Linked DNA regions of Homo sapiens. The protein of the gene in region 3 interacts with the protein of the main gene of each other region in a pairwise test. Each region holds a gene or a part of one and is shown on either strand. Other genes may lie near its edges. The genes, in order: MKRN1, WDCP and CSNK1G1.

Region 1 (3,653 bases), on a different chromosome or scaffold from region 3:
TTTCTTTTTCTTTTTCTTTTTGAGATGGAGTCTCTCTGTTGTCCAGGCTGGAGCGCAGTGGCTCAATGGCACGATCTCGGCTCACTGCAATCCCTGCCTCAGCCTCCCGAGTAGTTGGGATTACAGGTGCCTGCCACCATGCCCGGCTAATTTTTTGTACTTTTAGTAGAGATGGGGTTTCACCATATTAGCCAGGATGGTCTTGATCTCCTGACCTCGTGATCCATCCGCCTTGGCCTCCCAAAGTGCTGGGATTACAGGTGTGGGCCACCACGCCTGGCCCTTTTTTTTTCTTTTTGTTATGTAAGTTAAACAGTTTTCATAATCTAAGGCGTATTATTATTACATTTTTTTGAGACAGAGTCATAGTCGTGCTCCATCACCCAGGCTGGAATGTCAAAATAGTTCGTTGTAACAATGCAAAAACAAGGGCCAGGCGCAGTGGCTCACGCTTGTAATCTCAGCACTTTGGGAGGCCGAGGTGGGCAGATCACAAGGTCAGGAGATCGAGACCATCCTGGCTAACATGGTGAAACCCTGTCTCTACTAAAAATACAAGAAATTAGCCGGGCGTGGTGGCGGCGCCTGTAGTCCCAGCTACAAAGCAAAAACACAATGCAAAAACGGACTAATACACTTGCTTTACTCCTGTTTTCTTATCACCTTCTTTTTATTTTTTTTTTTTGAAATGGAGTCTTGCTCTGTCTCCCAGGCTGGAGTGCAATGGCGCGATCTCGGCTCATTGAAACCTCAGCCTCCCACGTGTAAGCAGTTCTCCTGCCTCAGCCTCCTGAGTAGCTGGGATTAACATGTGTGCCACCACACCAGCCAATTTTTGTATTTTTAGTAGAGACGGGGTTTCACCATGTTGCCCAGGCTGGTCTCGAACCGCTGGTCTTAGACCCCTGACCTCAGGTGAGCCACTCACCTCAGCCTCCCAAAGGTACTGGGATTACAGGCATGAGCCACCATGCCTGGCCCTTTCTTTGTGTTTATTTCGTATGTTTGTGTATTTACTGGTTGAATATATTAGTCATGAATACTAATTAGTTTTAATATTTTCAAGGATTGGTTTTAATCCAGTTTTGTGGTCTTTCGTCTCACAGGTATTTTATGCATGGGGTTTGTAAGGAAGGAGACAACTGTCGCTACTCGCATGACCTCTCTGACAGTCCGTATAGTGTAGTGTGCAAGTATTTTCAGCGAGGGTACTGTATTTATGGAGACCGCTGCAGGTAAGAATTTGTTTATAAATTTGTTCAGGGGTGGGTTGGAGGAAAAAGGTAAAAGACATACTTCTGATAGCTTTATATGTCACTGATTAAAAATAATGCTTTGAAAATGACTCTTGGCTGGGCAGTGGCTCATGCCTATAATCCCAGCACTTTGGGATGCTTAGGTAGGAGGATTGCTTGATCTTGGAAGTTTGAGACCAGCCTGGGTAACCTAGTGAGACCTCATGTCTACAAAATATAGAAAAATTAGCTGGGCATGGTGGTGTGCGTCTGTAATCCCAGCTACTTCGGAGGCTGAAGCAGGAGAATTGCATGAACCCGGGAGGTGGATGTTGCACTGAGCCAAGAGCCCGCCACTGCGCTCCAGCCTGGGCAACAGAGCGAGACTCCACCTTAAAAAAAAATTGGGTAGGGCTTTTCTATCCTCCTAGTTCAGAAATGACTAGGTGTATTATCTGTGGATGTTAAACAAGTAACCCTCAAATTTATTTTTTATTTATTTTTTTGAGACAGGGTCTTACTGTGTTGCCCAGGCTGGAGTGCAGTGGTGTGGTCACTTCTCACTGCAGCCTCAACTTACCAGGCTGAAATGATCCTCTCACCTCAGCCTCCCAAGTAGCTGGGACCACAGGGATGCACCACCTCATTTATTTAGTTTTTTGTAGAGATGGGGGTCTTAATATGTTGCGTAGGCTGGTCTCAGATTCCTGGGCTCAAGCAATCTTCCTGCCTTGGCCTCCGAAAAGTGTTGGGATTACAAGCATGAGCCCCAGAAACTGGCCCATCCCCAAATTTAGTAGGTTAAAACAGTGAACATTTATTATCTCAGTTTCTGGGGTTCCGGATTCTGTGAGTGCCTTAGCTGGATGGTTCTATCTCAGAGACACTTATGAGATGGCAGTCAAAATTTTAGCAAGTCATCTGAAGACTTGATGGGGACTCCAGGATATTTTTTGTGTGTGTGAGACCGAGTCTTGTCCCTCTGTTGCCCAGGCTGGAGTGCAGTGGCAAGATCTCGGCTCACTGCAACCTCTGCCTCCCAGATTCAAGCAATTCTCCTGCCTCAGTTTCCCAAGTAGATGGGATTACATCTGCGTGCCACTATGCCCGGCTAATTTTTTATATTTTTGGCAGAGACAGGGTTTCATCATGTTGGCCAGGCTAGTCTCGAACTCCTGACCTCAAGTGATCTGCCCACCTCGGCCTCCCAGAGTGCTGGGATTACAGGTGTGAGACACAGTGCCCAGCCAGCATTGTTTTTTGTTTGTTTGTTTGGGTTTTTTTGTTTGTTTTGTTTAGGATGGAGTCTTGCTCTTGTCGCCCAGGCTGGAGTGCAGTGGCGCAATTTCGGCTCACTGCAACCTCCGCCTCCTGGGTTCAAGCGATTCTCCTGCCTCATCTTCCGGAGTAGCTGGGATTACAGGCGCCCGCCACCACACCTAGCTAATTTTTGTATTTTTAGTAGAGACGGAGTTTCACCATGTTGGCCAGGCTGGTCTCGAACTCCTGACCTCAGGTGATCCACGCGGTTCGGCTTCCCAAAGTGCTGAGATTACAGCCGTGAGCCATGGTGCCTAGCCCAGTATTGTTTTTAAGAGGTCTTACTCTCATGACTGTTGGCAGGAGACTTTGGTTTCTCACCACTTGGCCTTTTTTTTTTTTCAAGACGGAGTTTTGCTGGTCACCCAGGCTGGAGTGCAATGGCATGATCTCAGCTCACTGCAACCTCTGCCTCCCGCGTTCGAGAGATTCTCCTGCCTTGGCCTCCAGAGTAGCTAGGATTACAAGCATGCACCACCACACCTGGCTAATTTTTTTTTTTTTTTTTTTTTTTTTGAGACAGAGCCTAGCTCTGTCGCCAGGCTGGAGTTCAGTGGCACAGCCTCAGCTCACTGCAACCTCCACCTCCCAGGTTCAAGTGATTCTCCTGCCTCAGCCTCCCGAGTAGCTGGGATTACAGGCATGCACCGCCACACTCAGCTAATTTTTGTATTTTTAGTAGAGATGGGGTTTCACCTTGTTGAAAGGATGGTCTTGATCTCCTGACCAGCCCACACCAGCCTCCCAAAGTGCTGGGATTGTAGGCATGAGCCACCGCGCCCGGCCCACACCCCACTAACTTTTGTATTTTTAGTAGAGACGGGGTTTCACTATGTTGGCCAGGCTGGTCTCAAATTCCTGAGCTCAGGCAGTCCACCTGCCTTTGCCTCCCAAAGCGCTGGGATTACAGGCGTGAGCCACCCCGCCTGGCCCACATGGGCCTTTTCATAGGGATACTTTAGTATCCTTGCAGCTTGGCAGCTAGCTTTCCCCAGAGCAAACAATTTAACAGAGGAGGCAAGGAAAAGCCACAATGCCTTTTATGACCTAGTGTCAGAAGTCATATACTGTTATTTCCACTGATTCTGGACTAAGTTA
Region 2 (3,653 bases), on a different chromosome or scaffold from region 3:
CAGGTGCATGACGTGGAAAAATAAATGTCTGCACTAATTCGGGCAATTTATATTTAGAAAAAAAATCATGTTATTTCATTGTGACAACCTTTTCCTTATATAATAGAGATACTCCTCCAGTTATAAAAAAGGTTATGTTGCTGGGCTCCATGGCTCACGCCTGTAATCCTAGCACTTTGGGAGGCCGAGGCAAGTGGATCACCTGAGGTCAGGAGTTCGAGACCAGCCTGGCCAATGTGGTGAAACCCTGTCTCTAACAAAAATATAAAAATTAGCTGGGCATGGTGATGGGCGCCTGTAATCCCAGCTACTTGGGAAAGCAGGAGTATCACTTGAGCCCGGGAGGCACAGGTTTCAGTGAGCCGAGACTGTGCCACTGCACTCCAGCCTGGGCAACAGGGCGAGACTCCGTCTCAAAGAAAAAGGAAAAGGTTATGTTCATTTAAAATGTTTTGATGCATTTCTTTATGCATGCATGTCCAAACATTATATAAGTGGGATCATATTATACATGTTTTTATCATGGACACTTTCCTCCTATATAAAATATGGCCTTGCCCCATCTTCCCCTTAATCCGCTGTAACCAGCAGCTTAACATGGATCCTTTCGTGACTTTCTCCATGGTCACATGATCTAACACAGGTCTTTGTGTACATAGATATATAGGTATGTGGGAATGGTTTGTCATTGTTTTTACAAAAATAGGGTGATATGGTGCACTCTTTACTTCATACTGAGAGTATGCTCTTTATTTAGCCATTCCCTTGTTGATTGACATTCACTTTGTTTTTAGTTTTTAGCTACTCCAAATGATGCTGCAGTAGTACTCTTATATGTATCCATTCATATTAGTACCTTTATTTCTGTTGGATTGGTTCCCAGAAGTAGAAATGCAAATTTGAAGAGTATATGTGTTTCTACTTTTAATTGAGTTACCAGATTGCCTCTCAAAGATTTTTACTTAACAGTGCATCATCACACGCCCGCCAGCTATGTATAAGGCTGTCCTTTTCCTCGTATGTCACCAATCTGATCAGTGACCCTCCTGCTTCAGCCTCCTGAGCAGCTGAGACTACAAGCACATGCCACCACACTTGGCTAATTTTTTTTTTTTTTAGCAGAGACAGGATCTTGCTATGTTGCCTAGGCTGATCATGACCTCCTGGGCTCAAGTGATAGTCTTGCCTCAGCCTCCCAAAGTGCTGGGATTACAGGTGTGTGCCACTGCATGTGGCCCCAACCCTACATTTTTTTAAAGAGGATTTTTGCCACATTAACTACATGGAGTTTTCAGTAGTAGAGTTTTAATTTTTTTTTTTAAGTCACAGCTTTGCTGTGAGGAGCATTTTATTTTATTTATTTATTTATTTATTTATTTATTTATTTATTTATTTTTGAGACGGAGTCTCTGTCACCAGGCTGGAGTGCAGTGGCGCGATCTCAGCTCGCTGCAACCTCCAACTCCCAGGTTCTAGCAATTCTCCTGCCTCAGCCTCCCAAGTAGCTGGGATTACAGGCACGTGCCACCACACCTGGCTAATTTTTGTATTCTTAGTAGAGGCGGGGTTTCACCGTGTTGGCCAGGATGAGCTCAATCTCCTGACCTTGTGATCTGCCCGCCTTGGCCTCCCAGAGTGCTGAGATTACACGTGTAAGCCACTGCGCCCGGCCTAATTTTTTTTTAATTAAAAAAAATTTTTTTTTAACTATAGAGACAAGGTCTTGCTATGTTGCCCAGGCTTGTTTGGAAGTCCTGGGCTCAAGCAGTCCTCCTGCTTCAGCCTCCCAAAGCGCTGGGATTACAGGTGTGAGCCACTGCACCCAGCCATAGTTTTGATTTTTTTAAAATTATTTTATTTATAAATGTGATAACTGGTTTGGATTTCTTTCCTACTATGACTTTTTAAAGAGTTTGTTTTCTTTTTCTTCTGTCTTTTTTTAATAGGTAATTCATTTATTTGGTTTAAAAAGCAAAACTGTATTTTAATAAAAACTGTATACCAAGAACTCTTATTCCTACCCTATGTTTCTTCAGCCTGTTCTCCTTTCCTCCTTTAGGTAACCATTTTTATTTTTATTTCTTTATGCAGATACTAGCAGACTTTAGTTATGTATTTTTATTTCCCCTTTTGTTACACAAAAGGGAAGGTGATATACACACCTTTTCATTTTCCATTTAATAGTATGTCCTAGAGAGCTCTTTATATCAGCACACAGAGCTCTTTTTTCATCTTTTTTTCCACAGCTGCATAGTATTTTTTTTTCCTAATTACAAAAGTAATATATACTTGTTGAGGAAAAAAATTTTACCATTACAGAAAGTAAAAATTTTCCATAATCCAACCTTTAGAGAAAATCACAGATATAGCTAAATATTTTATTAGATGTTAGATGTAAATATTTCCATATTTTTTCTGTACATTTATCTAATCCAAAAAAAATCTAATATAAAAATATATTATTTTTAAAATTTTCTTTAAATAGGCTATTTTACTTGCAAACAATAATATATCTTTCTGTTTTTAAAACACTTATAAATGTAAAATTTTATATTTTTAAAAACTAAGGTTAAAACAACCATGTTTGGCCAGGCACAGTGGCTTAAACCTGTAACCCCAGAACTTTGGGAGGCCGAGATGGGTAGATCACTTGAGTCCAGGAGTTCGAGACCAGCCTGGGCAGCATGGCAAAACCCTGTCTCTACCGAAAAATACAAAAATTAGCCAGCCGTGATGGCACCCACCTGTTTTCCCAGCTACTTGGGAGGCTGAGGTGTGAGGATCACCTAAGCTGAGGAGGTTGAGGCTGCAGTGAGCTGTGATCGTGCCACTGCACGCCAGCCTGGGAAACAGAGCAAGACTCTGTCTCAAAAAAAAAAAAAAAAAGTTTTGTTGCCCTTTCAATTCCTCAGTTTTTTAGTTTATAATTATGTCATCCAACCAAGCTGTTGTCAGTAGTTATCTCTGGAGGATAGAATTTTGGGGGCTTTACTGTCTGCATTATATATTTCTGTTATATTTTTATTTTATTTATTTATTTTTAGATAGAGCTTTGCTTTGTCACCCAGGCCGGAGTGCAGTGGCGCGATCTTGGCTCACTGCAACCTCCGCCTCCTGGGTTCAAGCGATTCTCTGCCTCAGCCACCCAGGTAGTTGGGATTACAGGTGTGCACCACCACACCCAGCTAATTTTTGTATTTATAGTAGAGATGGGGTTTCACCATGTTGGCCAGGCTGGTCTCGAACTCCTGACCTCAAGTGATCCACCCGCCTTGGCCTTCCAAAGTTCTGGGATTACAGGCGTGAGCCACCACACCCGGCCCTATTATACTTTTAAAAAATTGATCATTTATTCCTTTTGTAATGAGAAAAGTAAAAGTTACACAATAATCAAAAGCAAGAAATAGTTTCCCCTGTAATTTCAGAAATTACATTTCATAAGACGTGAAATAAATGATTAGTTGGTTTTGACTTTTACAGTTTATTCCTGTGACTTCATTTAAAAATATTAGTGGACATATTCTTTGAGTGGTTCATCCTACCACAGTGATGTATAGTTTTATTTTCTTTTTATGAGATGGGGTCTTGCCATGTTGCCCAGGCTGCTCTCCAATACCTGGGCTCAAGCAATCCATGCACTCTGGCCTCCCAAA
Region 3 (3,653 bases):
TGTGAGAATACAAAGTTTGCAATTCAGTTTGACCTTTTTTGAGAAGTTCATAAGTTTTGTGTAAATTTGTGAGAAATTTTCTTTTCTTTTTTTTTAAAGACAGATTCTTGCTCTGTCACCTAGGCTGGAGTGCAGCAGCATAATCTCTGCTCATTGCAATCTCCGCCTGCTAAGTTCAAGCAGTTCTCGCACCTCAGCTTCCTGAGTAGCTGGAACTACAGGCGTGTGCCACCATGTCCAGCTAATTTTTGTGTTTTTAGTAGAGAAGGCGTTTTGCCATGTTGGCCAGGCAGGTCTCGAACTCCTGACCTCAAGTGATCCGCCAGCTTTGGCCTCCCAAAGTGCTGGGATTACAGGCATGAGCCAACACACCCAGCCCTGAGAAATTTTCAAATATATTTCTTCCCCATGTCTCTTTGTTTTATAAAGAGTTGAAATTAGGCCAGGCATGGTGGCTCATGCCTGTAATCCTAGCACCTTGGGAGGCCGAGGTGGGCGGATCACCTGAGGTCAGGAGTTTGAGACCAGCCTGAGCAACATGGAGAAACCCCATCTCTACTAAAAATACAACATTAGTCAGGCATGATGGAGCATGCCTGTAATCCCAGCTACTCGGGAGGCTGAGGCAAGAGAATCGCTTGAACCCGGGAGGTGGAGGTTGCGGTGAGCCAAGATTGTGCCATTCACTCCAGCCTGGGCAAGAGCAAAACTCCATCTCAAAAAAAAAAAAAAAAAAAGAAGAATTCAAATTATGTTTTGTGATAGTTACAGAGTTTTGGTAAGGTTATTTAGCTTTCTAAATGGCTCTTCTGAGAGTGTAAGGTCTGTATATATCTAAGCTTTCTGCTGTGTTTTCTTTTATCTTTTCACTTTTTTTTTGAGATGGAGTCTTGCTCTGTCACCCATGCTGGAGTGCAGCGGCACTATCTTGGCTCACTGCAACCTCCGCCTCCCGGGTTCAAGCAATTCTACTGCCTCAGCCTCCTGAATAAGCTGGAACTATAGGCATGCGCCACCATGCTGGCTAATTTTTGTATTTTTAGTAGAAACGGTGTTGGCCATGTTGGCCAGGCGGCTCTCTAACTCGTGACCTCAGGTGATCCACCCACCTTGGCCTCCCAAGGTGCTGGGATTACAGGTGTGAACTGCCCTGCCCGGCCTGCTGTGTTTTCTCGTATCATTTTTTTATCATCCTTTAAATCTTAAAGTTGAGATCATATGCTTTGGTAAAGCTCTCAGAAGCTCCCACTTTTTCCCCTGTCTTCTTCTCAAACTATAATACTGTATTAATATTTTTAAAAATCTTTTTTGTTTTTGAGACGGAGTTTCTGTTACCCAGGCTGGAGTGCCCAGGCTCAGCTTACTGCAGCCTCTGCCCCTCAGGTTCAAGCGCCCCTCCTGCCTCAGTCTCCCGATTAGCTGGGATTACAGGTGTGCGCCAGCATACCTGGCTAATTTTTGTATTTTTAGTGGACATGGGGTTTTGCCATGTTGGCCACGCTGGTCTTGAACTCCTGGCCTCAAGTGATTGGCCCGCCTCAGCCTCTCAAAGTGCTGGGACTACAGGCGTGAGCCACCGTGCCTGGCCCGATAATCTATTAATTTTGATATAAGAGATAGTATACTAGCTGCTAGAGTAAAAAATTCTATCTTAATTGTGTGCAATGAATAGAGACGGTTAGAGATTTCTCAATCACCACTTCCTCTCAAAGTCTGTGGCCGTTCCAAGGATCTTTGCAGTTGTCAGTTATGGAATTTGCTTGTCAGGAAATCTAAAAATGACTAAACCTTTGTTTAATATCTATCTCTTGGATGACCTCAGAAAGTTTTAGGAAAGATTGGGAAGGTTTATATATGTACCATATACTAGAATTAGATAATGAACAAAATACAGCTGAATTTATTGGCGCTATACAATCAGGAGTGAGTTACTGTGAAAATGTTATTAAAAAGTCCAGGCGGTGCTTTCTTTTTACTCAAACCAAATGAGTATTCTTCCAGAGCTCATTTTTATTTTAAAGCATATTTCTTTTATGGAGCTGTGATTTAGTCTCTAATAAGGATAAATAATCATTATATAAAAAAAGGCTGGTGTCATAGATTTTAGTACTACATATTGATAGAAACTGCTTCAGTGGTTTTAGATAAGTGTATTTTCCGGAAATAACTTTTGAATTTGTGGAATGATAGTTTTTCTCTTTTTAACAGTTAACTTGTCTCTACTCATTTCTGCCCAATATAGAAGCTCTGAGAAGCTGGGAGGAAAAAAAAAAAGAAAAAGAATGGATTTACTTCAGAATTACCATTTTAAGTTGTGGAGATTACTTATTTGGAGAGCAAAATTGGATTTTGACATTATTGGGATTGTGTTCAAGATGGACTCAGGAAAAAAAATTTAGATGCCATCTGTTTCAGATTCCTTCTCTCCCAACCCCTTTTATGTTTTATGGCTTTGAGTTCATCAGATTATTTTGTAAAAATAAAAATCCTCAGTAGATTTAGGTTATATAATATCAGCTCTATCAGTGAACATGTAACCAAAGATCTTGCATTTTTATATTGAGTTATACAGGATGATGACAGATACTGTTTAAAGTTAATTGTTATTTCAAACTATATGAATGGTAACTTCATGCATCTTTTAATTCTCACTGTTCACTTGATAAACCAATTTTTTTTTTTTGGAGACAGAGTCTTGCTCTGTTGCTCAGGCTGGAGTGCAGTGGCGTGATCTTGGCTCACTGCAAGCTCCATCTCCCGGGTTCACGCCATTCTCCTGCCTCAGCCTCCGGAGTAGCTGGGACTACAGGTGCCTGCCACCACACCCGGCTAATTTTTTTTCTTTTTGTATTTTTAGTAGAGACGGGGTTTCACCGTGTTAGCCAGGATGGTCTCGATCTCCTGACCTTGTGATCCGCCCGCCTTGGCCTCCCAAAGTGCTGGGATTACAGGTGTGAGCCACCGCGACCAGCCGATAAAACCATTTTTATAAGTAGTATTTAACATAGTCCACTTGTTGATGGAAGCTTAAAAAATTGATAAAAAGATATTTTAGATTAAATCTTTATTCACTTGATGTCTTAAAACCAGAAAAGAAGCTTCTTCTGAGGATTTTTAACTTAAAACAAGCTTACTTAAATTTACTCTTTCAGTAGTGGATTTTATCTTACCCTCTGTGCCAGTTGCTTAGTTTTCATCTAAATGTGTGCACATAGTTGGCACTTTTCATTTGGGATTTTTTTAATTTTTAATTTTTTTTTTTTTTTTAATTTTTGGAGACGAGGGTCTCAGTGTGTTGCTCAGGCTGGTCTTGAACTCCTGAGCTCAAGTGATCCTTCCACCTCAACCTCCTGAGTAGCTGGGATTACAGGTGCTAACCACCATGCTAGGTTCATTTTGGATCTTAATAAATTCTGACGGCAGGCTTTTGGGTTACTAAACTGTAAAAGACCAAACTTGCTGAGGTTATAACCTTAACTTAGCGGACCAGAAAGACTCAGTCATCTCAGAGAAATTGAAATAGCACTAGTGTGGTATCCCAGAAATGGCCTAAAGAGAGAGCCATCTGGATAGAAGCCATGCTTTGTCTGCAGCAGGAATGTTCTGATGAGATAGAAAGACAGATGGACTGTCCCCACACTAATGTAGTCTGT

The links.
Region 1: the proteins of CSNK1G1 (region 3) and MKRN1 interact in a two-hybrid assay, tested with the Homo sapiens proteins (one large-scale study listed by BioGRID and IntAct).
Region 2: the proteins of CSNK1G1 (region 3) and WDCP interact in a two-hybrid assay, tested with the Homo sapiens proteins (one large-scale study listed by BioGRID and IntAct).

What each region holds. Positions count from the first base shown.
Region 1 is NC_000007.14:140,469,465-140,473,117, reverse strand, and holds part of MKRN1 (E3 ubiquitin-protein ligase makorin-1), read left to right. Parts: intron 1-1,106; coding exon 1,107-1,235; intron 1,236-3,653. UniProt on the Homo sapiens protein: E3 ubiquitin ligase catalyzing the covalent attachment of ubiquitin moieties onto substrate proteins. These substrates include FILIP1, p53/TP53, CDKN1A and TERT.
Region 2 is NC_000002.12:24,033,808-24,037,460, reverse strand, and holds part of WDCP (WD repeat and coiled-coil-containing protein), read left to right. Parts: intron 1-3,653.
Region 3 is NC_000015.10:64,349,532-64,353,184, reverse strand, and holds part of CSNK1G1 (casein kinase I isoform gamma-1), read left to right. Parts: intron 1-3,653.